2 separate regions of the Homo sapiens genome follow, and region 2 is linked to region 1. Evidence: fine-mapped expression QTL. A gene starts in region 1. The other region holds a variant in brackets. All regions are shown on one strand. Distances are from middle to middle.

Region 1 (2,901 bases):
TTGTTTACTACCACGCCCCCAGCATCTAGCACAGCATCTGGCATACAGATGCTCAACTAATTATTTGTTGAAACTAATGTCCTGCATAAAAGTAGTGTAATTTACTTTTTTTTTTTTTTTTTGAGATGGAGTCTTGCTCTGTCGCCCAGGCTGGAGTGAAACGGCCGATCTCGGCTCACCGTAACCTCCGCCTCCCAGGTTCAAGCGATTCTCCTGCGTCAGCCTCCTGAGTAGCTGGGATTACAGGCGCCCATCACCATGCCTGGCTAATTTTTGTATTTTTAGTAGAGACGGGGTTTCGCCATGTTGGCCAGGCTGGTCTCGAACTCCTGACGTGCCCACCTCGGCCTCCCAAAGTGCTGGGATTACAGGCGTGAGCCACCACACCCGGCCTTATTTATTTATTTATTTAGAGACAGTCTCGCTCTGTCCCTCAGGCTGGAGTGCAATGGCGTGATCTCAGCTCACTGCAACCTCCACCTCCCGGGTTCAAGCGATTCTCCTGCCTCAGCCTCCCAAGTAGCTGGGATTACAGGTATGTGCCACAACGCCCAGCTAATTTTTTATATTTTTAGTGGAGACGGGGTTTCACCATGTTGGCCAGGCTGGTCTCAAACTGCTGACCTCAAGTGATCCGCCCGCTTCGGCTTCCCAAAGTGCTGGGATTACAGGCGTGAGCCACCGCTCCCGACCCCTAATTTACATTTTTAAAAACCCTAGCAGGGGCCGGGAACCATGGCTCACGCCTGTAATCCCAATGCTTGGGAGGCCAAAGTGGGAGAATCGCTTGAGCCCAAGAGTTCAAGATCAGCCTGGGCAACCTGGCAAGACCTCGTCTCTACAAAAAATTTAAAAATTATCCAGGCCTATTGGTGCATGTCTGTAGACGCAGCTACTTGGGAGGCTGAGGTGGGAGGATAGCTTGAGCCCAGGACGAGGCTGCGGTGAGTCGTGATCGTACCGCTGCACTCCAGCCTGGGCGACAGAACGAAACCGTTTCAACAGAACAACAAAGACAAAAACCTCCAAAACACCCTAACAGTTAAATTTCCTCAGTCCAGAAGCTGATTGCAGTCCAGTTCGCAATTGGCCAGGCTCTAGTTTATATAGGACCTGAGGCTCCACCCATGTGCAGGCACCGCCCCCGTGGCGTCACGAGCGAGCAATGGCGTCATTGGAACGACATGAGCATGCGCACTTCCCCAGCACAATCAGGGAAGACACGCGTGACCCGGAAGGTCTTCCCGCCACACTCCAGAGCGGATGTGAGGGGCGCCGATGGCGGAGGGAACGGCGGAGGCTCCTCTAGAGAATGGTGGTGGTGGCGACTCGGGAGCCGGAGCTTTGGAACGAGGAGTGGCGCCCATTAAGCGTCAGTGAGTCGCCGGGGCAGGAGGGAAGCTGAAGGGCCTTTTCCGGCACCCATAGCGCGGTCCGAGCTGTGCATGCCGGGAGATTAGGCAGCGGCTGAGGGCGAGAAGCCACCGGCTCTTCATTCCGGGCCGTTCTTCCGCCTGCAGGGTGGTCAGCGGAGGTACCTGAGATCGTGCACGTTGGGGCCTGTCACATGCGCGAAGGACACCACGTGCATGCTAGGGCAGGTGGGATTTGAGGCCAGGCCCGCGCTGCATACTGGGGATTGTAGTCCCTGCATATGGACGTACGGCGCATGTGCTCTGCCAGCGGCCGTTACTGGCGGGTCTTGGGGTTGAAGCGAGTGCCGCGGGGCGTGCTGGGGCCTGCGGTGTTTGAAGGGCCGAAAGGCGTGCTGGGAAATGTGGTGGCTTAGACTCCGCTTCAAGGCATGCTGGGAATTGTAGTTTTTCGCAGCCTAACGTGCGCAGGGACGTTCTTGACTGAACCTGATAATAGTTTCGCGCAACACTTTGGACAGTGAGGACCCAGGGACAAAATAGGTCTTTTTTGAGGCCGTGAGGGGCTCCCAGGCTGGGAGCTGGCTGGTTCTTAAGTAGTGAGCTCCCCATCAGCAGAAGGATTTAAGGACGTGCAAGTGTTTCTAGCCTCCTTTCCCCAGTGTTTATTGACTATGTTCGGAGGGTTTTCCTTTCCCTTTCTGTCGGCAGATACCTCACCACCAAGGAGCAGTTTCACCAATTCCTGGAAGCCAAAGGGCAGGAGAAGACTTGCCGGGAAACCGAGGTAGGAGACCCTGCTGGCAATGAGCTGGCTGAGCCTGAGGCTAAGCGGATCCGACTGGAGGATGGACAGACGGCGGACGGGCAGACGGAGGAGGCAGCAGAGCCCGGGGAGCAGCTACAGACTCAGAAGAGGGCCCGGGGACAAAACAAGGGCCGGCCCCATGTGAAGCCCACGAACTACGACAAGAACAGGCTGTGTCCCTCCCTAATCCAGGCAAGTGCGGCCACGTGAGCATTCCTGCCGGGGCAGGCAGGAGCAGGGTGTGTTTCCTGGCAGCGGGTAATTGTTAGAAAGCTCCTGGGCCTTCAGCAACGAGCAGTGAGCTTGCTCTGATGCCATTCCGTCTTCATTCTCCTCGGGATACATTGTAGGGCTTGTCATTGTTCTCATTGTATAAATGGAGATGCAGAGGCACGGTGAGGTGCCTGACTTGCTCAGGGACACAAGAGCCAGGAGGGGTGATCTAGAGTTTGAACCCTGGCTGCTGGGCTGCCCCGGGGTCTCCCTGTCCTCCCTCACTGCTTCCCTGTTTCCTCGCAGGAGTCGGCTGCTAAGTGTTTCTTCGGTGATCGCTGCCGCTTTCTGCACGACGTGGGGCGCTACCTGGAGACCAAGCCGGCCGACCTGGGCCCCCGCTGCGTGCTCTTCGAGACCTTCGGCCGGTGCCCCTACGGCGTGACCTGCCGCTTCGCTGGGGCCCACCTGAGGCCCGAGGGACAGAACCTGGTGCAGGAGGAGTTG
Region 2 (2,901 bases), 26 kb before region 1:
CCCTAACCTAGGGAGGCATCTGTACCTGTCCAACTGCATAGAGACACACATTTGTAGGTACAGGAGTGCCCACTGTCATTTGCAATCTAGCTCAGGTTATCATCTGTGCCCTGAGACCCCTCATCCTGGCCACACACACAGGGGTACACAGGTGAACACGCTGCCAGCACCCACAGCTGCCAGAGCCCAGGAGTTCAAGACCAGCCTGGGCAACATAGCGAGATGCCCCATCTCACACAGCACACTGTCAGGCTTACACTTGTGTGCCCACTCACACTCATTCACACCCAGCCATCTCATATCCTCACACTCAGGTTCTTTCATACTCGTATACACACACTCACACACTCACACACTGCCCACACACGATCACACTCACATGCTCAAGCATTCTCACTCGAGCACACTTGCGTGCTCAAACGCTCCCACATTTGGCTGGGTGCAGTGGCTCACACCTGTAATCCCAGCACTTTGGGAGGCTGAGGCGGTTGGATCACCTGAGGTCAGGAGTTCGAGACCAACCTGGCCAACATGGTGAAACCCTGTCTCTACTAAAAATACAAAAATTAGCCGGGTGTGGTGGTGGGCGCCTGTAATCTCAGCTACTCGGGAAGCTGAGGCAGGAGACTCACTTGAACCTGGGAGGTGGAGGTTGCAGTGAGCTGAGATCTCCCCACTGCACTCCAGCCTGAGCGACAGAGCGAGACTCCATCTCAAAAAAGAAAAAAAATTAGCCGGGTGTGGCAGTGTGCGCCTGTAATCCCAGCTACTCGGGAGGCTGAGGCAGGAGAATCGCTTGAACCCGGGAGGCAGAGGTTGCAGTGAGCTGAGATCACACCACTGCACTCCAGCCTTGGTGACAGAGCAAGACTCCGTCTGGAAACGAAACAAAACAAAACACTCCCACATTCACTGTTTTCACATTTCCACACTCAAACAGGGTTACACACACATCCTGGGTTGTCCTCACACTCACACACACTTGGACTTTTTCACACGCATTGAAACACAATCACACATTTGACCATGATGACACTCACACGCCTGCCTGCCTGCCTGCCTGCCTTCTTCTTTTTCTTTCTCTCTCTCTCCCTCCCTTCCTTCCTCTCTTTCCCTCCCTCCCTCCCTCCCTTCCTTCCTTCCTATTTCCTTTCTCTTTCTTTTTCTTCCTCTCTCTCTCCCTCCCTCCCTTCCTTCCTTTCTCTCTCTCTTTCCCTTCCTTCCTTCCTCTCTTTCTCTCTTTCCCTTCCTTCCTTCCTTTCTCTCTTTCTCTCTCTCCCTCTCTCTTTCCCTCCCTCCCTCACTCCTTTCCTCCCTCCTTCCTTCCCTCTCTCTCTCTTTCTTTGATAGAATCTTGCTCTGTTGCCCAGGCTGGAGTGCAGTGGCGCAACCTCGGCTCACTGCAACCTCTGAGTCCTGGGCTCAAGTGATCCTCCTGCCTCAGCCTCCCAAGTAGCTGGGACCACAGGTGTGTGCCACCATGCCTCGCTATATTTTTGTTTTTGTTTTTGTTTTT[GTTTTTT/T]GGTAGAAACTGGGTTTCACTGTGTTGCTCAGGCGGTCTCAAACTCTTGGCCTCAAGCAATCCTCCCGCCTCAGCCTCCCAAAGCACTGGGATTCCAGGTGTGATCCACTGCACCCAGCCAGTATTTTCATACTTACACCCAAACATGATCCCATGCATACTCAGATGTTTCCAGGCTCACATATTCTAACACAATCACATCCACACACCAGAACACCACCGCATGAATCCACTAGTGTGTTCTCACACTCACATTTGAATACGTCGTGCTCACATGCTAGGGCGTTTTCACAGTCACACTCAAACATGACCACACTCACACACTTGGACGCTTCCACCTTCATTCAAAACACTCACTGGCTGGGCAAGGTGGCTCATGCCTTTGATCCCAGCACTTTGGGAGGCCAAGGCAGGAGGATTGCTTGAGGCCAGGAGTTTGAGACCAACCTGGGCAATATAGGGAGACCCTGTCTCAGAAAAGAAAAGAAGACAAGACGGGGCACGGTGGCTCACGTCTGTAATCCCAGCACTTTGGGAGGCCAAGGCAGGCAGATCATTTGAGGTCAGGAGTTTGAGACCAGTCTGACCAACATGGTGAAACCCCGTCTCTACTAAAAATACAAAAAAAATTAGCCAGTCATGGTGGCAGATGCCTGTCATCCCAGCTACTCAGGAGGCTGAAGCAGGAGAATCGCTTGAACCTGGGAGGCGGAGGTTGCAGCGAGCCGAGACTGCACCACTGCATTCCAGCCTGGACGACAGAGCAAGACTCCGTCTCAAAAATGAAAAAAGAAAAGAAAAGAAGATGAGAAGAGAAAAGACAAAAAGAGTCAAGGTCATGAAGGACAAAGACAGATGGAGGAGGAGTCTCAGATTGGAGGGGCCAAAGGAAAGGGGATGGCTAAATGTCATCTGGGATCCTGGATGGACCCTGGGACAGAGAAAGGACGTTAGCAGAAATACTGGTGAAACTCGGCCAGGCTCAGTGGCTCACGCCTATAATCCCAGCACTTTGGGAGGCTGAGGCGGGGAGTTCGCCTGAGCCTGGAAGTTCGAGACCAGCCTGGATAACATAGTAAGACCCCATCTCTACAAAAATAGAAAATAATAAATTTTTAAAAGACACCATCGGCCAGGCACAGTGGCTCACGCCTGTAATCCCAGCACTTCGAGAGGCCAAGGCGGGTGGATCACTTGAAGTCAGGAGTTCGAGACCAGCCTGGCCAACATGGCAAAACCCCATCTCTACTAAAAATACAAAAATTAGCCAGGCACGGTGACAGGCACCTGTAATCCCAACTACTCAGGAGGCTGAGGCAGAAGAATTGCTTGAACCCGGGAGAAGGAGGTTGCAGTGAGTCGAGATCGCACCATTGCAC

The links. PIP is the estimated chance that this variant, and not a neighbour inherited with it, causes the effect.
Region 2: its variant is fine-mapped to the expression of DUS3L in whole blood (INTERVAL, PIP above 0.99).

The regions. Positions count from the first base shown.
Region 1 is chr19:5,789,519-5,792,419 of GRCh38, reverse strand. It overlaps DUS3L (dihydrouridine synthase 3 like), which reads left to right and starts at 1,257. Exons shown (of 13, transcript NM_020175.3): 1 at 1,257-1,376; 2 at 2,085-2,373; 3 at 2,701-2,901. The coding sequence starts at 1,279. RefSeq lists an enhancer at 1,075-1,534.
Region 2 is chr19:5,815,796-5,818,696 of GRCh38, reverse strand. All of the region lies in intron 1 of NRTN (neurturin), which reads right to left. Among named protein-coding and RNA genes, the nearest start is that of NRTN, 12 kb to the right of the region's middle. The variant GTTTTTT/T (reference allele first, on the strand shown) is at 1,517.